Linked DNA regions of Homo sapiens: all the other regions are linked to region 1. A link means that fine-mapping ties the variant in region 1 to the plasma level of a protein whose gene starts in the linked region. Region 1 holds a variant in brackets. A gene starts in each other region. All regions are shown on their reverse strands.

Region 1 (4,064 bases):
ACATCAGACTATGAGCATTCTGAGGAGGAAAAGGAAGGGGCCAGGCGGAGGGCTGTCTGTTTTCTTGGCTCATTGGCTGTTCTCAAAGCAGTGGTTCGCCACTTTGCACATTAGAATCACCTGGGGAGCTTTTTCAAACTAGGGCTGAACCATCCGCAAAGATTGTATTAACTTGCTTTGGGTGGGGTTGAGTCATGGAAGGTTTTTAAAAGCTTCCTAGGAAATTCTAGTGCACAGCCAGAGTTGAGATCATAGGCTCCACGGTTGGGCAGGAATTTATCATTCTCAGCAGGGAGGAGGATGGTGGCCCCAGTGTTGGAAGCATCTGTGAACTCTATACCCCAAGAACTTCCTAGAAATCAAACAAGCTCAAGCCAAAAGGAACCTCCTGTATCACCTGGACCAGATATCCCCAATCCTGGTTATACACTGGCAACACCTGGGTAGCTTATAAAATGCCCCACCCCAGATATTCTGATTAAGTGGTTCTGGGATGGAGTGGGGGCATCAGCATCTCTTATATCCATCCTCTCAGGTTGATTTTTTTTTTTTTTTTCAGACAGGGTCTCACTGTGTTGCCCAAGCTAGAGTACAGTGGTGCATCATGGCTCACTGCAGGCTTGGCCTCCTGGGCTCAAGCCATCTTCCCACCTCAGCCTCCCAATTAGCTGGGGCTACAGGCGAGTACCACCATGCCTGGCTAATTTTTGTATTTTTTGCAGAGACAAGGTTTCGCCATGTTACCCAGGCTGATCTCAAACTCCTACACTCAAGTGATCCACCCACCTCAGCCTCCCAAAGTGCTGGGATTACAGGTGTGAGCCACCGCACCTGGCCCAGGTTGATTCTAACGTGTATCCAGTTTGGGAACTACTGATATAGTCCCAGACTCTCAGTTTACAGATGAAGAAAATGAGGCTCAGAGAGGAGCAGTGACTTGCCCAAAGTCACACATCATGCTTGCTCCAGAGGCAGGGCTAGAGCCCAAACTCCTGACCAGGGCTATTTCCATGCTGTAACCCCTATGGTTTGCAAAATTATTTCACATATATTACCTCGTTGGCCTATATCTTGCCAGACTGCATTGCTTCCTGCCACCATCCTCTCATTTCGCAGAAGATGAGATGGGGCTCAAAGAAGTGACCTGCCCAAAGCCACACAGTGGCAGGATCCAGAAAAGAACTCAGGTCTCCTGACTGCAGATCATGGGTATGGCCTCACCCAACAATGCCCATGGCCAGTCATCTGCCTGCCAAGTTCCAGCATGTGAGGTTTTCCTGAGCCTCAACACCAGCAGCTGAAGGTTTGGACACCTCCAGAGGCCAGGCTTCCTGAGCCTCAACACCAGCAGCTGAAGGTTTGGACACCTCCAGAGGCCAGGCTGTGCAGAAATCTCACAGCGGACAGTTGCCTGGTGCCCTGGAAGTTCTACTCACCGATAACCCCTTACCCACCGTTCTGAGCATACTGAGATTTCCTGTTTACAACAGGTTTGCATCTGTTATCTCCAATGGTGTGTTAATGACAATCCCCATTTTACCAAAGGGCAGACGGAAGCTCAGAGAGCTTTGAGGACATTGTCTCAGGACCAAAGCTAGCCTAGAACCAGAATCAGGTCTTTGGACTCTAAGGCCAGCCCCTGGGGCCTGGGGGGCCTGGGACCTGCCTGCTTTGTGAAAGTTTTCCCACCCTGCCTGAACAGATGGCCAGAAGAGCTTAAACCAGAGATTGGGGCAGGGTGGTGTGTATGTGTGTGCCCCAGTTTGACCAGCTCTGGTTTCTGGTTACCTGCTGCCAAAAAACAAATATTTCCCAAAGTGGTAGGTGCAGGAAACAGACCTCACTTCTTTAAAGCCCAAAGTAGGCAAGCCATTTCTACCTTCCTCCCTTTTTCTCACCTAACCATTTGAGGATAACAGTGATTAAATGCCTGCTTTCTGGCCAGGCACAGTGGCTCACGCCTGTAATCCCAAGTTTGGGAGGTCGAGGCAGAAGGATCATTTGAGGATAGGAGTTTGAGACCA[G/C]CCTGGGCAATACAGTGAGATCCCCATCTCTACAAAAATAAAAATAAAAAATAAGTCCGGGTGCCATGGCTCGTGCCTATAATCCTAGCACTTTGGGAGGCCGAGGTGGGCAGATCACTTGAGGTCAGGAGTTCAAGACCAGCCCAGCCAATACGATGCAACCCCGTCTCTACTAAAAATACAAAAAAAATTAGCTAGGTGTGGTGGCGCATGCCTGTAATCCCAGCTACTCAGGAGGCTGAGGCAGGAGAATCGCTTGAACCCGGGAGGCAGCAGTTGTAGTGAGCCAAAATCACACCACTGCACTCCAGCCTGGGCAACAGAGTGAGACTCTGTCTCAGAAATAAATAAATAATAAAAGCTACTTTCTCCTTGTCTACACCCCCTGATAGTCGCTAGACATAGGGAGCTGGGCCTTGAGGAAGGGCCCAGGATGACCTGTCATTTATTTTACTTACGAAGCACTGATACAACTCGCTGCTCCAAGTGCTCTGAAACATTCATTAACTCATTTCAATTTTCACAACAGCCCTATGGGAGAGGGGAGGGCACTGCTCCTCTCCCCACTCTAGAGATTAGGAAATAAAATACAGACAGGTTAAGTGACTTGCTCAATGTTACACAACTAGAAAGAGGCAAAGCCGGGATTTGAACCTAGGCAGTCTGGCTCCAGAATCCACGTTCTTGACCACTGTGGTTTACTGGGCAGCATTTGCCTGAGTGTCTGGTGCTACACCAGTCTCACCAGGGAGACTCCTAAACACACTGCAAAGTGACACCTCATGCTCGACTGGCTCTTAAATCCAGATGAAAGAGTGTAAAACACTAACCATTTTCTGGGGTTGTCACGGTGTGTGCAAGTCCACATGGACGCCCATTTCAGGACCTCGCCACCACCTTCCACCTTCCTTCTTGCATTCACTGCTGTGATTAGAGTCTGCACGCCACCTGCATCCACTCTGGCAGTTGGTATTGTAATCCCCCATTGTACAGGTGAAAACACTGGGGCTTGCGGAGGGCGTAAGTGACCACAAAGCTAATAAGTGGCAGAGCTTGGAAGTCAATCCCCTGCTTCTGCTCATTACATCATTTGCATCTTTCCAAGACCCCTCAGGAGGGATTCTGCAGGAATTGTGGCCGCTATTCTGGGAAACGGAAGGTGCGAGTCACGTGATCAGTGTGAGAGTCCAGGCCTCTTAACTTCTGAGCGGATTCTCTTCCGCCTCCTGCTTCCACCATTTGTCCATGTCCATTGCTACCATTCCAACACCTCGGTTCCTGGAATGGAGGGACACATTTGACTGCTGAAACCTGCTCAGTGTAGACTCTAGCATCTCCAAAAAGCCGGGTAAACTCTCAACCCAAAGGAGAGAAGCCAAGTCTTGCTCAGCAGCTATTTTAGGGCCTGAGAGCTCCCCCTGCCCCTCTCGGGATGTGGGGATGTCGGGATGTCGGGATGTCCGCAGAGCCAGTTTTACCCTCCCGTGGGTGCGTGGTGGGACCAGTCACCGAGGGAGGCAGCGCCCGGGTGCAGGTGGGCCGTGTTCTGATGGAGCTGGTGGATGGCAATGCCAGCCAGAGAACTCGGTAATGACGGGAGCCAGCATGGGCGAGCACTCACTAGATGCCAGGCGTCGCTGTATGTGCCTCAAGCCCCGCAACCACCTGGGCTGTGGGCTCTAAGGGGCCCTCAGAGCTTCGCTGCCCTCGGAAGTGATGGGATCTGAGGAACACCTATCACCTAGATTGACAGGGCACTGGGCCATGGCCTTAGGGTCTGCTGGGGTCCAACCATAGCCCTGAGATCCTGGGTCCTGCCCTCTGTACCCTTGCCCAATCTCCATTTTGCAATCCATCAGCCTGACCCAGTAAACATCTCTAGCCCGAAGAGAACCCATCTTCCTGACCCTTTTCTATGTGTTTCGAAAAAGAGCCCAGGGGTGTGGGGGAGGGAGGGGGCCTCAGGCATCTGATGGGAGGCTGGGAGAAAGCCACTGAGCTCTGGTAGGCTGCCTGAGTGCCAGCCACTTTACCCAAGCT
Region 2 (4,064 bases), not on the chromosome of region 1:
TATATATTTCTGAAAGCCATCCTTAATCCTTTTAGGAAGAGGCAACGGAGAGGTAGATTGGTAGATCAGGGCTGTAATCAATGCATAAACAAGGGGTGGTGGGGAAATGAGAAGGGAGAGATTAATTCCCACTCAAATCCAGGAATGTCTTTTAGAGAATGTGACATTTTGGTTGGGGTTTGAAGGGCCAGGGAGGGTCAGCAAGGGAATATGGGGGACTGGCATGACCTGTCCACCCTCCCAAAGCAAAGTAAAAATAGAACCTTGGTTAGTGCTTGCTAAATATTGGTCCTGAAGACAGAACACTCACATTCTCCCTCATTCCCGCTGTCTTATATACATAGACCTATCAAGACACACCCATAGATAACCACAAATGCAAAAACACAGAAAATACACAAAAACACACACCAGTACACATGCACAGATTATTAAGACACAATATATGAAAATAGATACTAGCTCCCATACTCATAAACTCACACAGATACATACAACACTCATACACACAGACTCACAAACATGTTTATGCATTCATACACAGCCTCCCCCACCCACTACTCATGCAGGAAAATAAATGCATGCTTTAATTAACATACACGGGTTCACACATAAATCTCATCCTGCTGGTCTGGTTGAAGACCAATGACTAATGGGAAACCATGCACAAAGCCAAACATCACGTAGGGGAGGCCGGGATTGGGTTAGCAGTGGGGCTTGAATTAAGCCCCATCAGATGACAAACCCGCCCTGCCTGGCTTCCTCTGGAAGCTGCTGAGCCGAAGCAGCAGCGCCTGACCTAGCTCTGGATCCTGGGCGGATGATGCGAGGCTGCGTGCCCGAATTCCAGCTTGATTCAGGGTTTAGTGTCATCCAGGGTCAAGCTCGGCTATTAGCCCCACCCCAACCCCTGCAACCAGCCGGAGGCTCTGGGGGCACTGAAGGGCTGTGGCCTGGGGCTGCTTTCTAATCCTGGGCTTGCCCTGGCGCAAATGCTGAGAATAGTTAGCATTAATGAGGGTTACAACAGTGGGCCAGGCTCTGGGCTAAGCCCTTTACGTCCATGACTTAATTCTCACAACAGCTCTGTGAGGGGGGTGGGGGGTGAGGGGTGTCCTATCATCTCCATTTTAGTGGTGAAAAAACCGCGCTCAGGCCACAAAACCATTCAGCAAAAGACATCAAGTTGAGGTTCAACCCTGTCTGATCCTATTCTTCCCGGGGTTTAGGTAAGTGTGCTTGCGAGCCTGTCTCCTCCACGCAGGAAGCTTGCACCTTCTGCCCTCAGGGGTCTCCACCGCCCGGTCCCGCCCCCTTGTCCAGTCTGGCACAACACCTGGCCCACAGCAGGTTTCTGGTGAGGGCGTGGGTCTCGGTTCAGGGAGGCCCTCAGCAAGGGCCTCAGCTTCCCCATCTCTGAAATGGGAATGGCGGCAGAGACCTCGCAAGGCTGCGACCAGGCTCTCTGGAGCAGCAGAGGGCATGCCAAGCTCTACATCGTCGCTGCCGCTGCCCTCTCCCATCGCGGGGTTCCCGCGCGGTCCCCGCCCGAGCTGGGGTGCGGCGCTGGCGCCCCATTGTTCAGGAGGGCGGGGATGCTCCCGAGTGCTGATTCCACCCCCCGCTCGTGCTCGCAGCCCGGTGGAGCAGATGACTAGGCCCGGCGTCTGCCGCGCGGGGCGCATCCTTTGTCTGCTCCGCGGCGCCCGGTGCCCGAGGCCCGCGCCCCACTCTTTGGGCAGACAAAGCCGGGGCCGCCGCGAGCCCGGCGGGCTAGAGCTGGGCTCGCACCACCCTTCTCCCGCCTCACGGACCGCCCCCTCTCCTGGACGTCCTCTGATTGGCCTACGGGGCTACAAAGAGGCCGGGAAGCGGGCGGATCACGTGGGCGACTGTGGCTTCCCATTGGTTAGGCGCGGCTGCCAATCGAGGAGGGCGGGCGGTCCGCGCTCGGTCCGGTCGCTCCCTCCGCGCTGGGGCCCGCCCGCGGGGCCGGCCGCCTGTCAGAGGGAGGTGGCGATGGTGCGCCCGGTGGCGGTGGCGGCGGCGGTTGCGGAGGCTTCCTTGGTCGGATTGCAACGAGGAGAAGATGACTGACCAACCGACTGGCTGAATGAATGAATGGCGGAGCCGAGCGCGCCATGAGGAGCCTGCCGAGCCTGGGCGGCCTCGCCCTGTTGTGCTGCGCCGCCGCCGCCGCCGCCGCCGCCGTCGCCTCAGCCGCCTCGGCGGGGAATGTCACCGGTGGCGGCGGGGCCGCGGGGCAGGTGGACGCGTCGCCGGGCCCCGGGTTGCGGGGCGAGCCCAGCCACCCCTTCCCTAGGGCGACGGCTCCCACGGCCCAGGCCCCGAGGACCGGGCCCCCGCGCGCCACCGTCCACCGACCCCTGGCTGCGACTTCTCCAGCCCAGTCCCCGGAGACCACCCCTCTTTGGGCGACTGCTGGACCCTCTTCCACCACCTTTCAGGCGCCGCTCGGCCCCTCGCCGACCACCCCTCCGGCGGCGGAACGCACTTCGACCACCTCTCAGGCGCCGACCAGACCCGCGCCGACCACCCTTTCGACGACCACTGGCCCGGCGCCGACCACCCCTGTAGCGACCACCGTACCGGCGCCCACGACTCCCCGGACCCCGACCCCCGATCTCCCCAGCAGCAGCAACAGCAGCGTCCTCCCCACCCCACCTGCCACCGAGGCCCCCTCTTCGCCTCCTCCAGGTGAGTCCGGCGCTCCCTCTCGGGCAGGACCCGTCCTCACCTCAGCCCCGGCAATCTAGGGTTGGGCTCTTGCCTATAATTTATCGTTTGTTACCCCAAAGACACCCCAGGTTCCGGCTCCCGAGGGGGGATCCCAGGTCCAGCTAGTCTCCCTCCCGCCCCCGATCAATCTGGAAAGTCTTTTGTCCCCCGTGGGCTGTGCTCCCTCGGGAGGGGGTGGCTGCTGGGTGGAAGGCATCTCATCTTCTTCCCAACAGGGCTTTCTGGCCTTTTTCAGAGACCAGAATGGGCGCAAACTTTTGGGTTGGGTTCGCGCACCCAGCCTCTCTGCCTGGGTTATTTGGGGAAGTTTGAAAGCCCGCATAGTACCTCCTTCAACCACTGGGTCAAAAGCTGAGGGTAAGGAATTCCTCCCAAAGCTCCAGTTTCCCTGTTCATTTCTTCTTGTTTATGTAAATATCAGATGTGTGTGTATGACAGGTGGAAGAGAGGTAGTGAGAGGATTTTGTTTACAAACAGTAGTATGGACCACTTGAGGGCAAAAAATAAAAACAAAAAAGGCATTGTAATCCATGTTGTCCCTGCAAATAAGTGGATTCAGTAGGTCATTTGGGACAGGTGTGTATCTAGGCTGAGCACATTTACAAATTAGGTTAAATCTCTTCCTCGCACCATTTTTTTCTTCCACAATTATAAGGTCAACATGTTTGGCCAAATACACCATTTAAGCAAGGATGCCTATTTTTGTCTCCTTAAGCCAGGATGTTCAACTTTGCTGATGCTGATATATGCCAATTTCTGTTTGAGCCCACGTAGAAAAGGCTTTTCTTGCTGAAGTCTTCAAGCAAAGTTAAAGACAACTCGTATTCTTTCCCCGTTTAAATCTTAAGTGGGCCTAGGACTAAAACAAAACAAAACAAAAGCCTACTTTGTCAGAACGTTTGGACAAAAGTTTCTGAATTGTCTTGCTTTGAGTTGGGGTGGAGGTTTGTCCAAATCCTTTGTCTAGCTGGGTCTCTGACCTAAATCTTAGGCTTAGTGATTTACTGTGGAGTCAGGTATGGACTTTGGACTATAATTGAGTGTGTAGAGAATTTTCCCACATGGTTATGAACCTTAATACAGTCTTGATCCTTGGGTTGGAGCTTGGCAATGACATAAGTAGGATTATTCACCCATAAAAAGCCAAGTGTGCATCTCTTCCAGCTTCAAGGAATGCATTAGCTAGCTGGGTTTTACCTGTAACCCCTTTTGGCTTTCATATAGAGAGATTGACATATTACTGAGAGACAGGAAGCATAGTGGTTGAGAGTATGGACTCTGGAGTTTATTCTTAGGTTTGAATC
Region 3 (4,064 bases), not on the chromosome of region 1:
AGTTAGAGTAGAAGCTTCCTTCCATCCCATGACCATTCTTCTATTTCCTGAGGTGACTAATATTCTGAAGTTGATCTGTATTTATTCCATTCACATATTTTATATGATACACCATGTATGATTATCAAATTGTTTTATGTGCATTTTAAGAGCTACACAAATGGTAGCATTATATAGTTAACACATCAAGTTCTACGTTTTTCCCTTACATTTATGTTTCTGAGATTCAGTCTTGGTGATACACATAAGCCTAGTTTGTCCTTTTTATGAGTATACAAGAAAATATAAATTCAGTGAGAGCAGAACTTTATTTTATTCACTGCTCTGACCTAAGTAACTTGAGCAGAATATTTCTTTAATGAAGTAGTGAATTTGAGAGAATGAGTTAGTGTATATAAATGAATGAATTAATGTACAAATGAATGTGTGCTATTAGCTTATATTTTTTCCTATTTCTGGCTTTGTCTGATTTTGACATTAAGGTTATTCTGCCTTCACAAAATGAACTGAGTAGCTTTAAAACATTTTGTATAAATGTATATTTATTCCGCAGGATATGCTAAGGTCTAGCACTTTCCTCTGGGTAGATCTTGATGAATGATTTGATTTCTTTAATGTTATAGTTCGATTACAGTTTCTGAAAATTTTCTTCTTGAACTATTTTTGGTAGTTTATGTTTTTCTATACAATTATTCCTGTTGTCTCCATTTTTAGATTTAATGGTGTATTAGTTTACTATTGCTACTGCAACAAATAACCATAAATTTTGTGGCTTAAAACAACACACATTCATTATCTTACAGTTATGGAGGTCAGAAGTCTCAAATGGGCTAGTAGATCCTTTTTTATGCCCATTCTAGCTTCCAGAGATTGCCCACATCACTTGGCTTGTGTTTGTTTTTACTCTGACCCTCCTGCCTCTCATTTGTAAGGGCTCTTGTGATTATAGTGTACCCACCTGGATAATCACGATACTCTCCCCATCTCAAGAGTCTTAGCTGAATTGCATTGGCAAAATCCCTTTTGCTCTGTAAGGTAACATACTCACAGGTATTAGGAATTAGGATTCGGACATTTTTTTGGGGGGGCATTATTCTATTTACCACAATTGGTATCATATGTTCCATTGTGTTTTCTCCTGCCTCTCTAGATGTGTTGCTTTAAAAAAATTCAGGCCGGGTGTGATGGCTCACGCCTGTAATGCCAGCGCTTTGGGAGGCCGAGGCGGGCGGATCACGAGGTCAGGAGCTCAAGACCAGCCTGGCCAACATAGTGAAACCCCGTCTCTGCTAAAAATACAAAAAAAATTAGCCGGGCATGGTGGCGGGTGCCTGTAGTCTCAGCTACTTGGGAGGCTGAGGCAGGAGAATCGCTTGAACCCGGGGAGGCGGAGGTTGCAGTGAGTCGAGATCGCACCACTGCACTCCAGCCTGGGCGACACAGCAAGACTCTGTTTAAAAAAAAAATTCAGAATGTGTTTATTTCTTCCTCTATCATTTTCTCTTCATTAATTTGTCTATTTTATTAGCTATGCCCTGACAGTTTTGACAGGGTTGTGGGATATAGTAGAAAGGTTGGAAAGGCATGGACAGCCGTGCTGGGAGTGCTGTTCGAGTAATTTTCTGCCTCCAGTCATTTCCCACTACTTCATCAAATACAACTACCTCACTATGCTCTGGGTGGTACGAAGTAACCCATGGTAGGATGCTTCCCAACTCAGTGTTAAAGGTAATGGTGCATCCTGAGCTTTCTCGCTCTGCATCTCAATCCTGGAACTGGTAATTCTCTATGACTGACACCTCTGAGCTCCCATTCTCTCCTATCTCTAGGGAATACCTGAGGAGGTGAGGTTTCACCTTCTTACTCCCCGCGGCCCAACCCCCGTCCGCCCCTCCCCCGCCCCGCCCCTCGCCCCCCAGAGCTGAGACCTGGGCATGCGCATCAGCCGCAACAGATTGGAGGGGACCCTGCTGCTCACTCCCCTGCTACCCTCCTCTCTTCCCTCCCCCGACCGCTCTCATATTCCCGTTCCCACCCCCACCCCCCACTCCCGCCCCGCACCCGCCCCTAGCCCGGGCTCGGGGACCTGTCAGGCTGGTTTCGACAGCTGGGGAATTAACCTGTCCCGCCCATCCCTAGCCTCGAGCCGCGCAGGCTCCGCGCCTCCGCCCTTGTTCCCTCCCAGCTCCTCCGAGTGGAAGCCGCTACAAATGGCTTGAATGAAACGTGTGTGGGTTTAGTGAGTGGTGAACCACCAGGGGATCCCGTCTCCCCACAAACCAGTATCTCTCCGAGGAGGAGGCGAAGGAGTGGGAGGAGGCAACGAGCCGAGAGTCGAGCTTCGCGGGCGCGCGCAGCGGCTGGAGCGCGGGGGCGAGGCCGGGCCACCTCCCCTTCCCGGCCGCGCACTGCCTGGCCCGCGGCGGTTCCAGGCACCACCCTTCCCGTCCGGGCTGAGCCCGCTGTGGCAGTGACTAGCTCCCGCGGCTAGCGGCACTGTCCACCGACGAGCGGCGCCCTCTTCTCCCCCTTCTCCCCACGATTTCCTTCTCTGCGGCGGCACGCCGTCCAGCAGCCTGCTTCGCCCCGTCGTCAACTTTGAGCTGGAGGAGAAGCAACTTTGGCAGTGGCCGCGGGGTTGGAATCCCGCTTCTCCTCGGCAGCAGTAGGCTCGCAAGTCGCTGGGGTTAGGTGGGGCAAGAGTTTCGCCGGCGCATCAGCGCTGCTTCGGACTGTTTGCAACGTGTTTCCAGCGAGCTGGGAGCGGGGTTGTGACTGCGAGTCGTCTGGGGGAGGGGGACTTGTTTTTCTTTTCCTCTAGAGACCTCGGCTTGCAACTGGATCAAACGCTGTCGAAAGGATGTAAATAGGCAGAGCAACTGTTACCAAGAAGGCCACCACCCCCACCCAAAGGCAGTGAGGAGTGTGGGGCTTCGTCTGGGCTCCCCCGAGTCTCAACAGTAATCAACAGTCAGGTGTTGATTGCAACTTTTCAAGGTCAGCCACCGGGAGTAGCCTATTCCCTCTAGGAACCTTGGAGGGCATACCTTGCTGGGACTCAACTTGGCTGAGAAATGCACAAGATGCCAAAGGAGGAAGGATTATAGGGGGCGTGTGTGTGACCCCCAAGACCGATCTTCCGCTATCACCCTAATCTCCGGTTCCCCGCTACCCGGGCGGGGGTGAGTATGTGACATGTGCCTAACTCTCAGCAGCAACTTCGGCAGCAGGTGTCGATCCTAACTAAGCAGGAGCTGCGGCTGCCGGGTGTGCCCTCACCAAGCCATGCGAGCCCCGGGCGCGCTTCTCGCCCGCATGTCGCGGCTACTGCTTCTGCTACTGCTCAAGGTGTCTGCCTCTTCTGCCCTCGGGGTCGCCCCTGCGTCCAGAAACGAAACTTGTCTGGGGGAGAGCTGTGCACCTACAGTGATCCAGCGCCGCGGCAGGGACGCCTGGGGACCGGGAAATTCTGCAAGAGACGTTCTGCGAGCCCGAGCACCCAGGGAGGAGCAGGGGGCAGCGTTTCTTGCGGGACCCTCCTGGGACCTGCCGGCGGCCCCGGGCCGTGACCCGGCTGCAGGCAGAGGGGCGGAGGCGTCGGCAGCCGGACCCCCGGGACCTCCAACCAGGCCACCTGGCCCCTGGAGGTGGAAAGGTGCTCGGGGTCAGGAGCCTTCTGAAACTTTGGGGAGAGGGAACCCCACGGCCCTCCAGCTCTTCCTTCAGATCTCAGAGGAGGAAGAGAAGGGTCCCAGAGGCGCTGGCATTTCCGGGCGTAGCCAGGAGCAGAGTGTGAAGACAGTCCCCGGAGCCAGCGATCTTTTTTACTGGCCAAGGAGAGCCGGGAAACTCCAGGGTTCCCACCACAAGCCCCTGTCCAAGACGGCCAATGGACTGGCGGGGCACGAAGGGTGGACAATTGCACTCCCGGGCCGGGCGCTGGCCCAGAATGGATCCTTGGGTGAAGGAATCCATGAGCCTGGGGGTCCCCGCCGGGGAAACAGCACGAACCGGCGTGTGAGACTGAAGAACCCCTTCTACCCGCTGACCCAGGAGTCCTATGG
Region 4 (4,064 bases), not on the chromosome of region 1:
AGCAAAGCACCCATCTAATCAGGAACTTCTACTTTCAACTTTACATGCGTGAGAAATGAACTTCTATCATGTTAGAGTGAGTATACAGTTTTTGTGTCTGTGTTTTAGTAGCTAGTGTCACCATAACAAATATAATTCACAACAGGATATTCACTTTTCAAAATCAAGTTGGGTACAGTTTGACCAATTGGCTACATGATTAGGAAAATATCTTGATCAAATAGTTTTCTTCTAAACACTTACATCACTATTCTGTACTCACACTGTAAAGTTTTATATCAATTACTGAAAATCATCCCAGGATAATTAAGAATGAAATGAAATGGATTATCTATTTTCAAGTCTCTTCTATGATCATCTTTAGAAGATTAATTCTGAGGCCCTTTATTATGCTCTGTGGTTTCAGGAAATCCTTACACGGCGCCCTTGAGAGCTTTCATACTGCAAGTCATCCATTTTCCTCCCCTCAAACCTGGCATCGGAGTTTATTGAAACAAAGCAAAATAAAACAAATAGACAAAGCTCTACCTCCATCACTTCTGCAGTCTACATTAACCCCACGTCCAGAATATTCACACCTCAGGTCTTTTTCTCACAATTGAAACACTGGTTCAGAGCCTAACGGAAGGTCTTGGAGGTAAAAACACAACTTGGGGCAACTTTTCCATTCTGTTCTGCATGACCCCAATGGGACTTCTCAGAAACCCCTCTCATGAATTAAACTTTGTTCTGTCTAGAGCATTAGAATAAGCTTATGGGCACCTGCCAGGAGATTATAAAGTGGGCCATTTAAAAGATGACAGATATTGAGCACCCTTGACCCTGTAGAAAGAGTGTACCTACTTGCTTTCCCTAGGGCCCTTAATGGTTTATAAAAACAAGCACTCACTGATTCAAAAAATATCCTCATTCCACAGTCTTGCCATGCCTTCTTTCTGAGCACATGGCAGTCAGTCTCTAGCACATCCAGTGTAAGATAGAACAGAGATCCCAGGCCACCCTGTGGGAAGGGGTAGAGAAATGCAATACATTTCACAGGAAGTAGAAACCTAGAAAGACCACACAAAAAAACCCCTGCTTTATGGCAAAGCCAAAGAATATTTGTGAAGATTCCCCGTAAACCATTAAATCTGACACAAGTGTCAGAGTAGGATCACTGTTAACACTTGTTTTTACTAACAATAAGTGCGTTGTTGCTGACCCTGGCAGAGGAGAACAGAGAGTTCTCGGCAGGGCTTCCAATACAGAAAACACCTGCCAGGGTGTCTCTGGGTTCCCTCACCCTGGCCAGTCTCTCCAGCTTGCCCACATCCCTGCCCCAGAGTGGGAACTGTCCCTACTTGCCCGTCTGTATTCCTGGGCGTCGTTCACTCGGTTGAGTCTCAGCACATAGCCATCCTTTCTGTCTTTGTTAATATCCCGCAGGGCAAAGCCTGCAACTGCCAGCACATCTGAGTCATTGCAGCCCCGGGAGAGCAGAGCCGAGGGGTTGAGGGCCAGCTGGGGTGGAGACATTGCTCCGCAGCACAGGACTAGGATGCAGAGTGCCAGGGGAAGGAGCAGACCCATTCTGTGGAGAACAAGGCCCAGGATGGGTCAGTTTGTGGAGCTGCAGGGACTGGCTGGCTTGTAAGGCTCTTTAAGGCAGACTTGAGCGGTTTTGTTACAACTGGAAGGGCTAACCAAGTTCACCTTGAATTCTGAACTTGGATTTTCCTAAGTCAGTACTTTGGATAGCATTTCCCAATGATTCTAACCTTAGACCCTTGAGCAACCTCATATCCACCTGTACATACAAATGAATTTAAGTTTCCCAACTGTTTCCTGAGAAATCATAACATTTGTTCAAGGCTCTTATGATTAGATTCTGATTTGCAGGTCCCCTCCTGAATAGGAATATGGAGGACTGTCCCATTCTCCCCCTCTCCCCTAACACCTTTGCTGTGGAGGTCTCCTTGGCCACTCTAATAGTTATCTTATGTCCCAGTGGTGCTTGGTGAATTCAGACTTCCTGGCTGACACTCTGTGTGCAAAGCCCTTGTTAGATCAGGGAGGTAGTTGAACCCCACAGTCATCTGCCAGAAGCACAGTTGAGATTCCTTAAGCACTTTGGCCATCTGGGTGGAAAATGTTCTACTTATCATCATTTAAGTTATTTTTAAACAATGACTTTACTTAAGGGGAAAAAGTCAAAGAGATATAAAAAGTTCTCACATTGTATTTCAAGCCTATTCTTCCTTTTATGCATATGTATGGAAGCAAGCTCATTAAGAGACTAAAGCCCCATACTCTTGCTAAAAGAAAGATACTGAAGGGCAGGTGGGTGGCAACACATTGGTTGGGACTCTTGCCTTCTTTTTTTTTTTTTTTTTTTAGCTTCTATTTGTGATTCAGAAAGGTTCTACTTATTGGGACCATACAAAAGACAATTATCTTTTAAAAACTGTATTTCAACAAAAAACACATATCAGCAGTAGTTTGTCATGAGAGAAAAGAGACAAAATGGGAAAGAAGCCTCTAGAAGAGGTTATCATGAAGGGCATTCTATAAAGCCCTAGTCCATGAGGTGAGTAACCACCCCCTAACTCTCTCCCTACTCCTAGCCCTTCTCTTCCTTCCTGTCCCTGTCCAAGGATTCTGCATTCAAATAAGTTTAGGAACTGCTGAATCCTTCTGTGTGCTTGCTGGTACACAGTGGTGGCTATTGTGTAATGCTGAGAGGATTATCCTATCCTGATGAGGGCTCCACCCTCATGAATGGAATATGCCATTATCTTGAAAGTGAGTTCCTGATAAAAGGATGTGTTTGGTCCCCTTCTCTCTTCCTTTCACCTGTGTGATGCCTTCCACCATGTTATGATGTAGCATGAAGGCTCTCAGCAGGTATAGCCCCTCGATCTTAGACTTCCCAGCCCCCCAAACCATGAGCCAAAGTAATTTCTGTTCATTATAAATTCCCTGGTCTCTGATATTCTGTTATAACTACATAAAACTAACTGAGGCACAGCCCTAATTAATTTCTGGAGAGAAATAGTTTTTGAGGATTGATTGAAAAACCCAAATCTAAAGATCCCAGCTCTGTGGATGTGGGCTGTAGGCATTGTTTTCAAATAGGAACGATACTAGCAAAATGGGTACAGAAACCAGACATTCAGATTCTGGGGCACAACAAAGGTTTAGCTTCAGCCAGTGAGGAGACAAACATTCATTGAGCTTGAGCAACGTACAGAAAGAGGTTGAGAAGGATCTGGGGCCTGAGGATGCAGAACAAAGAGGAGGAGAATGGTCTGGGACCTGAGGAATATATTAGACTTATATAGGTGAAGGCCATGAGTGCAACTAAAATAAAAGGCAGGACTCAAACAGATAAAAAGATCCAATAACATGGAAATCGTGCACCACCACTTATGCACCTGGGTTTCAACCCAGTCTCAAACAACCTGAGCTGGCCTTCTCCTAGGCTGTGGAGTATGGGAGCCCTGGGAGAGGAAGCAGGGGAAGAGTCCAGCCTTTGGTGTCAGGCAGTCTTGGGTTTAAATTCCACCTCTTCCACTGCACGGTAAGAGGGCCTGTGACACTGGGTGTGCCACACAGCATTTTGTTTCCTTATTCATAAAACAATGGCACTCCCAGCATATGTATACATGCACAGTTGCACCTGCCTGTAGAAAGAGAATAGAGTTCCTCTTTCCCTAGAAGCCCAACCCAGGTACACTTGTGTTTGGTTCCCATCACATATGGGAACAACTTTAGTATCAGCATGGAAGTTAAATTTCTGCTCAGGAGTGAAGAACAAGGCTGTGGAGATAGATCAATCTAGGTTTTGTTGAATCCAGTGTGTCTAATAGAAATACAATGCAAGTTACATATTTAATTTTAAAATTTCTGGTATCTGCATTCGAAAAGTAAAAAGAAACAGATGATATTAATTTTAACAATATTTTGCTTAACCTGTCAATCCAAAATATTATAATTTCAATATGTGATTAACATAAAAATTATGAAAGGCACAGTTTACATTCTTTGTTTCACACTATGGCATACCCCAATTTGGAGTAGCCACA
Region 5 (4,064 bases), not on the chromosome of region 1:
CTCATAAGAGTGTGAAGTTATGCACCATTTTGAGATCATTTGTTCATTTATTCAACGAGTACTTTACTGAGCATCTACTATGTCTCAAGCACTGGGGATAGATACAAAGGTGGATAAAATGACCCAGCCGTTGCCTTTACTGAGTTTATAGTCTAGTGAGAGAGGCAAACAAAACATCCACTGCCACACACAACATATAAAATTATAACTGAGTCAGGTGTTAAGGAGAGAGGTACAAAGTGCTCTGACAGCCCTATAGCGGGTTTTCTGTCACCTGGAGACTGCCTTTTCTGCAGACAAGGTGACTCCTGAGCTGCAATCTGAAGGATGAGGAAGAATAAAGCAGTCAAAGAAGAGCAGTGTTAGGCTGCAATTCTCCATCCGCAATTCTCCAACCGCAATTCTCCATGGGTTGCCTGCATTTCCTGCACAGCTTATGTGCAGAGGCACTGGCTTCTTTGTTCTAGGCAATCTTTTTAGTGATGTTTGTACAGCAAACAGCCTTGGAAGATAGAAATAGCGTCCCCCCTCCAGACCAAAAGGCAGATTTGTTTACTGTCCAGTAATAAAGATAATGTCTCCCTTATCTTGGGCTGGCCAAGGTGAGGAAGGCTTACTGCTCATCATGAAAGATTTGAGTTCCTTAAACTAGGGATTCCTCTGCTGTGATGTAACTCATTGCATTCATGGCATCTACCTGGGCTCCTCCAACACTGCCCTTGTGAGACCTGAGGGCTAAGGGGAACTGACCCTAACATGAAGTTCATGCTGCTTGCTGTACCATGGATAATAAAGTCCTTTGTCTCTGACCTAGGAGTCTCGTGTCTTCTGCCAACATCCACGAAACTGTAGTTATGTCATTAATTTGCAAGTAGCATAAAATCTCAGATCTTTCATCGTTATTTACAGGCAAGTGGATGTCATATATAAAGGCCCTGTGGCGGGAGTCAGTAGAGCAAATATAAGGATTTAAAAGAAGACATATAAGCATGAGTGGAATATAGGGAGGGTGGGGGTCATGGCCTGAGATAAGGCTGGGAGGTGGTGAGCCTATGAGACCCTTGGCCAATCCTGCTAACACAGGCCTGGGGGTATCTTGGCCATTTGTTGTTACAAAGCTGCCTTCAGGCAGAGCATGTGGAATTAATAAACTGAGCTTGAGGGAGCATAGGACAACAAGGCTTGGGCCAATCTAAGCCTATGAAATAATTTTTAACAAAGGGAGATAGTGAAAATAGGAGGTGTTTTCTTAACATCCTGTGCTCTGTGATGAAAAATTTTGCATCTGCATGCCACTTCATAATATCACTATTAGAAATTAGAAGTCCTCCTCTCAGTGCCCCAAATGAACCAGAAGAAGCTATCATTGACTGTCATTGCTGTCAATCATCTTGGGTACAAAAGGAGGCAGTCATCTTAAAAAGGAAAAGTGATGCCTCTTTAGTATTCACCGAGCGTGATTCTGGACAAGCCACTTTTTGTCCACCTCTCTTACAATGAAGGGAAGGCACTGGCTGAGTTTTAAAGGAAGAGAAAGGGAGAGAGGGAGAGAAGAGGGAGAGAGCAGAGAGACCTCACCGAGAGAGCTGCAAAACCAGCCTGGAAAAATTAGAGTATTACCTAACATTAGTGAAAAATAAAGGTACTTTCTTGAGAAGCCCTTGGACCCATTCTGCCTCTTGGAGTTCTGAACTTTTCACTCACTGCCTATTAATTAATGTTAAGCCTGCAAAGAATGGAGTTGTCCTGGATATTTGGCCAAAAAAAAAATGTATCCACAAACAGGGACGTAATCAGGCAGGGAGCCTCGTTAAGAAGTTTTGTTCTTGTCCTAGGAGTGATGAGAGATCACTGAAGGATTTAGAGAGGGGCTGTATCATCAGGCTTGGGTTCCAAAGCCTCACTGAGAGAGTTGGGGAGCTGACTGATGTCAGATGCTCGTGCAGCCGCCCCGTAGGGCCTGTATTTCCTCCATGGTGCCTCACTGCAGCACCGAGCTTGCAAAAGATCCTCTCTCTTTATGGGAATTTCAAAACAGAAGCAAAATAGCACCGGGGCTTAAAGCATTCTTGGGAATTTCCCTGTCTTTCCCTCTAAATAATCAGCATGTAAATTGCAAAAAAAAAAAAAAAAAAAAAAAAAAAGACACGGGCCCAAAAGGGAGCGCTCAGTTTCAGGCTCTTTGCTTTCCTTCCTCCCGAGGCTCTCTGGCCCTTACCCAGCCTGAAGACAGAAAGTGTGAGGGGGAGGGTAGGAAGGTAGGTCAAGCAGGGCAATGCTGAGCCTGGGAAGAAAACAACAGCCTTGTTTAGGGCACTGTGGCTTACGTAACTAAATTGTGCCCAGTTTCCACCTGGCCAGGGGCCTGGAGTGAATGCTGAAGATGCAAAGGTAGAGGCTGCCAGAAAAGCCAGGAAATTGCTGGCAAGAAAGGCCAGTGGTGGGGTGCAGGAGTGGGAGGAAGGCTGGGAAATGCGGCTGAGTCACATCTCCAGAAGCCCCCCATCATCACCCTAGTGGCTCTTCTGCTGGCAGGTGCCTCATGAAGACCTGACCCAAAGTTTTCAAAACTCTGCGGTTTCTCAACCCTCCTCTGGTAATCCATAGTACTCCCCCGCCTCCACTTGCCAGCCTCGTGATTCCTTCATTGACACATAGCTCAGTTCCCATAAAAGGGCTGGTTTGCCGCGTCGGGGAGTGGAGTGGGACAGGTATATAAAGGAAGTACAGGGCCTGGGGAAGAGGCCCTGTCTAGGTAGCTGGCACCAGGAGCCGTGGGCAAGGGAAGAGGCCACACCCTGCCCTGCTCTGCTGCAGCCAGAATGGGTGTGAAGGCGTCTCAAACAGGTATCTGGGCTAGCCAAGGTTAATCCATCAGAGTTGTGGGTTTTCAGGCCCAGACAGCCCGCAGAGCCATCTGCCTGCTGGGTGAGGGACTAAGGGAGTGGGCAGAGGGGGAGGAGAAGCAGAGCCAGGGGAGGGACTGAGGCTGCAACCAGGAGGTGGGGGTGGGGGAGGTGGGTCTCAGTTGCTTGGGGGAGGGAGCAGGGCGGAAGGGCAGGATGCACTTGCAGGGGTCTCATCCTGGATTTCTCTTCAGGCTTTGTGGTCCTGGTGCTGCTCCAGTGCTGTGAGTAATCCCTCCACCTCCACTTTTAAGTCCAGAGGCGTGGCGAGGGCACAGGGCAGGTGTGGAGGAGGTCTTAGCTCCAAGGGAACACTTTGCCAGGTTCTTCTGTGCTTCCAATGACTTCGAAATAGTCACGTTTGCTAAACTGGAGTGAGGAGTATATGGATGTTTATTTTGCTATACTCTTTGGTATATGTGAAAATTCTCAAAATAAGAAACTTTAAAAGGTCCTGGTTCAGTGAAGGCTTTGACTAACAGCCCCTGGGAGCCGCTAGTACAGTTGCCCAGTAGCTGCTTGGATGAGTGATGCCCACATTGTTTGCAGCAGGAGAAACAGAATTAGAGGCGAGGAAGGATTTCCTGGTCCATTGTGATATTGTGCCCCAGCCTGGGGGACATGCCGAGGGAGCACAGGACTGCCATTCCGGGTGGGTTACAAGTTAGAGGCACTCTCACCAGGAGGCAGAGAAAGGTGGGCCAGAGTCCCTCATGGATGAAGGACCTCACTGCAGGTCACTAAAGGTGCCAGCCTGAAAGCCAGGGCCATCTGTGACACAGGCTATCTTGGGCCTTCCCCTCCCACAAAGCCACTGCTTCCAGGAAGCCTGCTGTGCTGGCACCAAGTCCCATTTCATCCTTATTCCCCAGCTCCTACCCTTCCCCCACACAGTGCCTGTAGCGTATTCATCCCCTGCATTGGATCTTTTCTAAGCATTTTCAGAATAGGCCTTATTTTCACCAGTCAGGGAACTCCCCAGAGGCAGGGGGACCTGAACCAGCTCCTTTCATTTAAGAATTCTGACTTTGCTCACAATCTGCACCCCACTCCTCCCTACCCAACCCCACACCCCATTGGTGCTCAGCTCTGGGCTCAGCCTGAGGTCTCTTGCCGAATCCTGGCCCGGGCCCCATCCCAGACTTCTCCTTCAGGCTC
Region 6 (4,064 bases), not on the chromosome of region 1:
TCAGTAAAAGGTGACTGCACCTTTCCCAGCCCCACCCAGTGCAGGGGACCTACAGGTGTTGTCTCAGCGGATGGCAAAACAACCCTGTAAAGTGGGCACCTTTAGGACCCCCCTTTGCAGATGGAGATGAGCTAGGTGGGGACTCCCACTTGTCCGGGTTCCTGCAGGGAGAGGGGATTTGAGCCCTGCTCTGTGTGCAAACCCAGACAGAAGGGCAGGAAACTGTATGGCCACATGCTTTCTTTGGGGCTCTCCTTCTTGTTGGCTTCCTGCAAAGTGCTCAGAAGTTCACATTCTCTTTCTCCCACTTCGGAGGCCTTGTTTTCCCCTCTCTGTCAAATGGGCGTATTCGGAGGCTTTGGGGCCAAGGAGAGCTGAGTTTTGACACCAGCTCTGCACTTACCCAAAGTGGGGCTGGGGACAGTCCCTTGTTGAGTCTCCATTTATTATTCTGATAAATAGAGATGATGGCCGGGTGCACTGGCTCATGCCTGTCATCCCAGCACTTCGGGAGGCCAAGGCAGGCGGATCATTTGAGGTCAGGAGTTCGAGATCAGCCTGGCCAACATGGCGAAACCCCATCTCTACTAAAAATAATAATAATAAAAATAGCCAGGCGTGGTGGCAGGTGCCTGTAGTCCCAGCACTTTGGGAGGCTGAGATGGGCAGATCACCTGAGGTGAGGAGTTTGCAACCAGCCTGACCAACATGGCGAAACCCCGTCTCTATTAAAAATATAAGTTAGCTGGGTGTGGTGGCTAACGCCTGTAATCCCAACACTTTGGGAGGCCAAGGCAGGTGGCTCACGAGGTCAGGAGTTCGAGACCAGCCTGGCCAATATGGTGAAACCTCGTATGTACTAAAAATATAAAAAATTAGCTGGGTGTGGTGGTGTGCACCTGTAGTCCCAGCTACTCGAGAGGCTGAGGCAGGAGAATCTCTTGAACCCAGGAGGTGGAGGTTGCAGCGAGCTGAGATCACACCACTGCACTCCAGCCTGGGTGACAGAGTGAGACTCTATCTCAAAAAACAAAAGCAAAAACAAAAAATAAAAGTTAGCCGGTCATGGTGGCACATGCCTGTAATCCCAGCTACTAGGGAGGCTGAGGTAGGAGAATCGCTTGAATCCAGGAGGTAGAGGTTGCAGTGAGCCGAGATCCTGCCACTGCACTCCAGCCTGGGTGACAGAGCAAGACTCCATTTCAAAAACAAACAAAAAAATAGAGATGATATGGACCCTACTTCAGGTTTGTTGACAGCAGTTAGTGAGAGGCTACAAGTCAGGGATTTAAGCCAGAGCCTGGTGGACGTGGGTCTGATTGGTATGCCTGTTATTAAAAGTATAGGCTCTGGCCGGGCGTGGTGGCTCATGGCCGGACGCAGTGGCTCATGCCTGTAGTCCTAGCACTTTGGGAGGCCGAGGTGGGTGGATCAACTGAGGTCAGGAGTTCAAGACCAGCCTGGCCAGCATGGTGAAACCCTGTCTCTACTAAAAATACAAAAATTAGCTGGGTGTGGTCGCGGGCACCTGTAATCCCAGCTACTTGGGAGGCTGAAGCAGGAGAATTGCTTGAACCCTGGGCAAAAGAGTGAAACTCCATCTCAAAAAAAAAAAAGTATAGGCTCTGGACATAGTTCCACTGTTTCCTACCTCCAGGACCCTGGGCAATTTATGGACTCTGCCAAGCCTCAGTTTCCTTATTTGTAAAATAGGGAAAACAATAGTACTCACATCACAGGGCTGTTGAAAGGATTAAGTAGATACACATGTGAAGTACAGTACTTACCACGACTGGCGCAGAGTAAATGCTCAGTAAATCACTCATTCACTTATTGGACAAATACTGAATGAGCACCTATTGTTTGCCAGGTGCTGTTCTAGGCGCTGAGGATGCAGCCGTGCACAAGACGGATGAAATCCCTGCCCTCAGGGGGCCGACATTTGCGGAGTAAATAAAGGAAAGGTAAATATCTTCCACGTCAGATTGAAAAATAAAGTCAGAAAGGGGATTTGCCATTTTATTTTTTGTAGAGATGGGATCTCGCTATGTTGCTCTGCCTGGTCTCAAACTCTTGGCCTCAAGTGATCTTCCCACCTTGGCCTCCCAAAGTGCTGGGATTACAGCCATGAGCCACTGCCCCTGGCCTGGTTTGCTACTTTAAATTGGGGTGGAGGGAGGGTAACAGGGAAGGTGTCTCTGAGATGATGCTGGGCAGGAGCCGAGGGGGTTGTGGTGCCAGAGCTGCTGATAGCTGTGTTCTTATGACCTGCATCCTGATGGCTTCTGAGTCCTGGTTCCTCTGAGGCCTCTGCAGCCTGCTTCCGGGCAGGGGGCCACACCTGTGCTCACCTGTCCTGGTTTGCCTCCAGCACTGTGTCCTGGGCTGCCCTCGTGGGGCAGGGCTCTAACAAGGGGGAGAAGGCCCTGAGGAGGTGCGGGTGAGGCCAGGTGAGAGGCACAGAGGATGTCCTGGCGCCTCCTGCTCCCCTCTCCCCACCTGTGACCTCACCTCACTCTTCTGCGTCCTGGCCCAGAGCACTGGGACCTCATCCCAGTATCAATCAGGATGCCTCCCTGATGTCCCTGGGCACCTCTCACTCACCTTGTCCCAAACTGACCTTGGCATCTTCCCCCAGAAGTGTATCTTCCCCTGGTGCCCTTATCAGGGAAGGCGCCACTACCCACCTCATCGCTGGGAAAAGAGACCTGGGGCCTCATCCCTGATGCCTCCCCCTACTCCCCGAACACGCCACCCCTTCTGGCAACTGACTCTACGTATATCTTCTCTCCCTCCCTGAAGCCCCTGCCCTGGTCTAGGTGACCACTCCACCACCCCACCTTGCCTGGGTCCTCCTGTCTCCCCACCAGCCTCCTCCCTAGTCTCTGGCCCTGGTCTCCCCGACTCCCATTGCCCCTCCACATGGCAGACAGAGGCTCTTTCCAAAACAAAAACCTGCCTCTGCCCCTCCGTGCTCAGAACCTGCTGTGGCTCCCCAGTGCCCTTGGGAGGAAGCCCAGGTTCCTCACTGTAGCCCAGGAGGCCCTGCCCGGCCTGACTCCTGCCCACCTGACCAGCTACATAGAATACCACTTGCTTCCGGGAACCCTCTGCTTCAGTTCTTCTGTTTCACTTGCACTCTACCCAGAATATCCCTGCTTCCCTCTGCTCTATTCCACTGCCTTCCCCAAACCCTCTCCTCCAGGAAGCCCTCCTGGACTTCAGGGCCTGGAATTCCCTGTCTCAGCCCTGACTGCCTTGGGTTCTCGCTGTCTGGGGCTGGGTCTTTTTCCCCCACTGGCCTGGGAGCCTCAGCTGGGCACGGCTGGGCTGTCACCACTGTGTCCCCAGCACTGCCCAGCAAATCACCTGGCACAGAGCAGAGGCTCACAGCATGTTTGTGGAACTGGACACCAGGTGTGGATGACACAGAGAGAGGAGTCTTCAGAGAGGCTCAGGTTCCTGGTGATCTGCTGTCTGCCTGCGGAGTGTGACCAGGCCGGGCTCTAGAGGCCCTCTATCGTCACATCCACCCTTCCTAGTCTGCCCCCATCCTCCACCTCCCTGGCCCCTCCTCTGGTGCTCCCGGCTGTGAGCCCAGATCCTTGGTTCAGTCAAGAGCTGCAGGCTCTTTAGCACCTGCTGTGCGCCGCCGGGCTGCGCAGAAAGCAGACGGGGTTCTTGTGGGCAGGGGCTTTTTCCTGTTTGTGCAGTGGGTGGGGGGTGTTCATGACATTGACTTCCCTGGGACTCTTCTGAGGATCAAAATAGGCACATGGAGTGTTCCGTGCCGGGCCTGCCTCAGAGCACGTACTGGGGGCACAGTGGTCGTTGTTCCTCCACCATTTGACAAATGTTTATGGAGCACCAACTATGTGCCGGGCACTGCGCTAGGCGCTGTGGGGTTACAGCCGTGAATACGGTAGACACAGAGCTGACCTATTGATTGGGGAGACAGTTAATAGACGAATACAAACATGAGCAGTGTTAGAACAGGTGGGGACAATGCTGTGGAGAAAAATAAAGCAGGGGAAGGGATGGAGGTGGTCGGGGCACTGGTTTAT
Region 7 (4,064 bases), not on the chromosome of region 1:
GTCTGTGTCCCAGGGCTTTCTACCAACCCTAGTACTCGGTAGACAAATGATAGACATTTGTTGAATCAAGCTGTGAGTTGGAGATCTTTGCAGAACCATCACTGCCCCTCTTAACTTGGAACTCCCCACCCAGAGTGCCTCCCCTAAGATGATGAGGTGTCAGACTTCAGTGGCCTGAGTTCTCTGAAAGCAGAGACTCTGAGAAAGAAGACTAGTCATCAAGACCACACTAAAAAGATGTGTTTCTGTGCCAAAGACTTTACTCACAAACAGGTAATACTATCATCTCCATTTTACAGAAGGGAGGCCCAAGTCTCATAACCTCAGTCGTAAAGCTGGGATTCCAAGACTGGCTATCTGACTTTGAGTCAGATATAATCATATCTTGGTCCTCAGGGATATCACAGAGGCCTGGCATGGCACCAGGGCATGGCCCAGTGCATTGGGGTATGCCCAACAGGACCCGCAGGGGGCAGTGATGAGCCTTCTTGTTTGGATTGGGGACAAATCTGCAGCTACTTCTTTCTCAATTAAAGAGGAAGTGGGAATTTAAAAAAGACTTTCTGCCGGGCACGGTGGCTCATGCCTGTAATCCCAGCACTTTGGGAGGCCGAGGCAGGTGAATCACCTGAGGTCGGGAGTTCGAGACCAGCCTGACCAACATGGAGAAACCCCATCTCTACTAAAAATACAAAATTAGCCGGGTGTAGTGGCACATGCCTGTAATCCCAGCCGCTCGGGAAGCTGAGGCAGGAGAATTGCTGGAACCTGGGAGGCGGAGATTGCAGTGAGCTGAGATCGCGCCCAGCCTGGGCAACAAGAACAAAACTCCGTCTCAAATAAATAAATAAAAGTAAAAAAGACTTTCAGGCCGGGTGTGGTGGCTCTCGCCTGTAATCCCAGCACTTTGAGAGGCCAAGGCGGGCGGATCACCTGAGGTCAGGAGTGCCTGGTCAACATAGTGAAACTCTGTCTCTACTAAAACTACAAAAATTAGCCGGGCATGGTGGTGGGCTCCTGTAATCCCAGCTACTCAGGAATCTGAGGCAAGAGAATTGCTTGAACTTGGGAGGCGGAGGTTGCAGTGAGCCAAGATCACGCCACTGCACTCCAGCCTGGGCAACAGAGCCAAACTCAGTCTCAAAAAAAAAAAAAAAAAAAAAGACTTTCATATAGTTCTTTCCCCAGAGGTCTAGGGATGTGGACCTGTGAGGGCTGTTGTAAATGCGTAGCTCCTTATTCTCTGGGACATTTGTTGTTTTTTTGTTTTGTTTTGTTTGCTGTTTTTTTCATTTTGTTTTGTTTTCTGTTTTTGTCTGTTTTTTGCGAAACTGGTGAGTTACTAATTAATCCTCATTCAACATAGTCCCATCCCTTCCTTCCTAGGGCACAGAGATTGTACTGAGGGGAGGGCAGGAGAGAGCAACGTGCAAGTGGGAAAACTGATTCAAAATACCTTGCTTCACAATTTCAGGACAGAAAATGGATAGTGTAAGTGACCCAGAGACTTGGCCAATGTGTCTCTGTTAAATACATCCACTTTTAAGAAAGTTAGTACTGCCAGGCACAGTGGCTCACGCCTGTAATCCCAGCACTTTGGGAGGCCGAGGCGGGTGGATCACAAGGTCAGGAGTTCAAGACCAGCCTGGCCAAGATGATGAAAACCTGTCTCTACTAAAAAATACAAAAATTAGCTGGGTGTGGTGGTGGGCACTTGTAATCCCAGCTACTCGGGAGGCTGAGGCAGAGAATTGCTTGAACCCAGGAGGCGGAGGTTGCAGTGAGCCGAGATCATGGCACTCTACTCCAGCCTGAGCAACAGAGCAAGACTCTATCTCAAAAAAAAAAAAAAAAAAGAAAGAAAGTTATTACTTAATCAAAGGAGCAAGGAAAAAAAAAGGAAGGGGGAATTTTTCTTTAGACCAACTTCCTTTTCTTGAACCTAATTCTACCCCCCTTGGTGCCAACAGATGAGGTTCACAATCTCTTCCACAAAACATGCAGTTAAATATCTGAGGATATTCAGGGACTTGGATTTGGTGGCAGGAGATCAACATAAACCAAGACAAGGAAGAAGTCAAAGAAATGAATCAAGTAGATTCTCTGGGATATAAGGTAGGGGGATTGGGGGGTTGGATAGTGCAGAGTATGGTACTGGCCTAAGGCACTGAGGATCATCCTTTTCCCACACCCACCAGAGAAGGCTTAGGCTCCCGAGTCAACAGGGCATTCACCGCCTGGGGCGCCTGAGTCATCAGGACACTGCCAGGAGACACAGAACCCTAGATGCCCTGCAGAATCCTTCCTGTTACGGTCCCCCTCCCTGAAACATCCTTCATTGCAATATTTCCAGGAAAGGAAGGGGGCTGGCTCGGAGGAAGAGAGGTGGGGAGGTGATCAGGGTTCACAGAGGAGGGAACTGAATGACATCCCAGGATTACATAAACTGTCAGAGGCAGCCGAAGAGTTCACAAGTGTGAAGCCTGGAAGCCGGCGGGTGCCGCTGTGTAGGAAAGAAGCTAAAGCACTTCCAGAGCCTGTCCGGAGCTCAGAGGTTCGGAAGACTTATCGACCATGGTGAGTGTAGGGTCTTGGGGTCGAACGCGTGCCACTCGGGAGCCACAGGGGTTGGATGGGGCCTCCTAGACCTCTGCTCTCTCCCCAGGAGCGCGCGTCCTGCTTGTTGCTGCTGCTGCTGCCGCTGGTGCACGTCTCTGCGACCACGCCAGAACCTTGTGAGCTGGACGATGAAGATTTCCGCTGCGTCTGCAACTTCTCCGAACCTCAGCCCGACTGGTCCGAAGCCTTCCAGTGTGTGTCTGCAGTAGAGGTGGAGATCCATGCCGGCGGTCTCAACCTAGAGCCGTTTCTAAAGCGCGTCGATGCGGACGCCGACCCGCGGCAGTATGCTGACACGGTCAAGGCTCTCCGCGTGCGGCGGCTCACAGTGGGAGCCGCACAGGTTCCTGCTCAGCTACTGGTAGGCGCCCTGCGTGTGCTAGCGTACTCCCGCCTCAAGGAACTGACGCTCGAGGACCTAAAGATAACCGGCACCATGCCTCCGCTGCCTCTGGAAGCCACAGGACTTGCACTTTCCAGCTTGCGCCTACGCAACGTGTCGTGGGCGACAGGGCGTTCTTGGCTCGCCGAGCTGCAGCAGTGGCTCAAGCCAGGCCTCAAGGTACTGAGCATTGCCCAAGCACACTCGCCTGCCTTTTCCTGCGAACAGGTTCGCGCCTTCCCGGCCCTTACCAGCCTAGACCTGTCTGACAATCCTGGACTGGGCGAACGCGGACTGATGGCGGCTCTCTGTCCCCACAAGTTCCCGGCCATCCAGAATCTAGCGCTGCGCAACACAGGAATGGAGACGCCCACAGGCGTGTGCGCCGCACTGGCGGCGGCAGGTGTGCAGCCCCACAGCCTAGACCTCAGCCACAACTCGCTGCGCGCCACCGTAAACCCTAGCGCTCCGAGATGCATGTGGTCCAGCGCCCTGAACTCCCTCAATCTGTCGTTCGCTGGGCTGGAACAGGTGCCTAAAGGACTGCCAGCCAAGCTCAGAGTGCTCGATCTCAGCTGCAACAGACTGAACAGGGCGCCGCAGCCTGACGAGCTGCCCGAGGTGGATAACCTGACACTGGACGGGAATCCCTTCCTGGTCCCTGGAACTGCCCTCCCCCACGAGGGCTCAATGAACTCCGGCGTGGTCCCAGCCTGTGCACGTTCGACCCTGTCGGTGGGGGTGTCGGGAACCCTGGTGCTGCTCCAAGGGGCCCGGGGCTTTGCCTAAGATCCAAGACAGAATAATGAATGGACTCAAACTGCCTTGGCTTCAGGGGAGTCCCGTCAGGACGTTGAGGACTTTTCGACCAATTCAACCCTTTGCCCCACCTTTATTAAAATCTTAAACAACGGGTCCGTGTCATTCATTTAACAGACCTTTATTGGATGTCTGCTATGTGCTGGGCACAGTGCTGGATGGGGAATTCATCATACTTAGGCTTTCTTCATCCTAACTCCCTAAGAAACCCTATCTGTCCTCCTCAAGAAAAGAACTGCGGGGA

Alleles and levels. Positions count from the first base shown, and alleles are read on the strand shown. Strength reflects both the effect of a copy and how common the allele is.
As copies of C replace G in region 1, the plasma level of the protein whose gene starts at base 2,006 in region 2 goes down (weak association).
With allele G in place of C in region 1, the plasma level of the protein whose gene starts at base 2,470 in region 3 is higher (moderate association).
With allele C in place of G in region 1, the plasma level of the protein whose gene starts at base 1,631 in region 4 is lower (moderate association).
For the plasma level of the protein whose gene starts at base 2,742 in region 5, C is the low allele of the variant in region 1 and G is the other (moderate association).
As copies of C replace G in region 1, the plasma level of the protein whose gene starts at base 1,897 in region 6 goes up (moderate association).
For the plasma level of the protein whose gene starts at base 2,471 in region 7, C is the low allele of the variant in region 1 and G is the other (weak association).

The links. PIP is the posterior inclusion probability: the model's chance that the variant is causal. The UK Biobank Pharma Proteomics Project read protein levels with antibody pairs (Olink). The fine-mapping took linkage between variants from a reference panel, not from the people measured, so its PIPs are less certain.
Region 2: it holds the start of MEGF9, and the variant in region 1 is fine-mapped to the plasma level of the MEGF9 protein (UK Biobank, PIP above 0.99).
Region 3: GPR37 starts here. The variant in region 1 is fine-mapped to the plasma level of the GPR37 protein (UK Biobank, PIP above 0.99).
Region 4: FETUB starts here. The variant in region 1 is fine-mapped to the plasma level of the FETUB protein (UK Biobank, PIP above 0.99).
Region 5: CHI3L1 starts here. The variant in region 1 is fine-mapped to the plasma level of the CHI3L1 protein (UK Biobank, PIP above 0.99).
Region 6: it holds the start of CEACAM16, and the variant in region 1 is fine-mapped to the plasma level of the CEACAM16 protein (UK Biobank, PIP above 0.99).
Region 7: CD14 starts here. The variant in region 1 is fine-mapped to the plasma level of the CD14 protein (UK Biobank, PIP 0.98).

Annotation. Positions count from the first base shown.
Region 1 is chr8:125,485,750-125,489,813 of GRCh38, reverse strand. The region is part of intron 2 of TRIB1AL (TRIB1 associated lncRNA); the gene reads right to left. Among named protein-coding and RNA genes, the nearest start is that of TRIB1AL, 21 kb to the right of the region's middle. The variant G/C (reference allele first, on the strand shown) is at 2,025.
Region 2 is chr9:120,712,412-120,716,475 of GRCh38, reverse strand. MEGF9 (multiple EGF like domains 9) reads left to right here and starts at 2,006. Exons shown (of 6, transcript NM_001080497.3): 1 at 2,006-2,718. The coding sequence starts at 2,118. RefSeq lists a silencer at 1,469-2,318.
Region 3 is chr7:124,764,198-124,768,261 of GRCh38, reverse strand. GPR37 (G protein-coupled receptor 37) reads left to right here and starts at 2,470. Exons shown (of 2, transcript NM_005302.5): 1 at 2,470-4,064. The coding sequence starts at 3,286. RefSeq lists a silencer at 2,329-2,458.
Region 4 is chr3:186,637,966-186,642,029 of GRCh38, reverse strand. It overlaps FETUB (fetuin B), which reads right to left and starts at 1,631. Exons shown (of 7, transcript NM_014375.3): 1 at 1,345-1,631; 2 at 890-1,000. The coding sequence starts at 1,569. It overlaps HRG-AS1 (HRG and FETUB antisense RNA 1), which reads left to right. Exons shown (of 3, transcript NR_187317.1): 2 at 1-76; 3 at 407-521.
Region 5 is chr1:203,185,382-203,189,445 of GRCh38, reverse strand. It overlaps CHI3L1 (chitinase 3 like 1), which reads left to right and starts at 2,742. Exons shown (of 10, transcript NM_001276.4): 1 at 2,742-2,847; 2 at 3,101-3,130; 3 at 4,061-4,064. The coding sequence starts at 2,823.
Region 6 is chr19:44,696,984-44,701,047 of GRCh38, reverse strand. It overlaps CEACAM16 (CEA cell adhesion molecule 16, tectorial membrane component), which reads right to left and starts at 1,897. Exons shown (of 7, transcript NM_001039213.4): 1 at 1,788-1,897. CEACAM16-AS1 (CEACAM16, CEACAM19 and PVR antisense RNA 1) reads left to right here. Exons shown (of 2, transcript NR_186815.1): 2 at 1,871-2,010. RefSeq lists an enhancer at 3,725-4,064.
Region 7 is chr5:140,631,582-140,635,645 of GRCh38, reverse strand. It overlaps CD14 (CD14 molecule), which reads left to right and starts at 2,471. Exons shown (of 2, transcript NM_000591.4): 1 at 2,471-2,577; 2 at 2,666-3,914. The coding sequence starts at 2,575. The coding sequence ends at 3,790. It also overlaps a transcript of TMCO6 not described here. RefSeq lists enhancers at 2,827-3,326, 3,539-3,598, 3,327-3,828.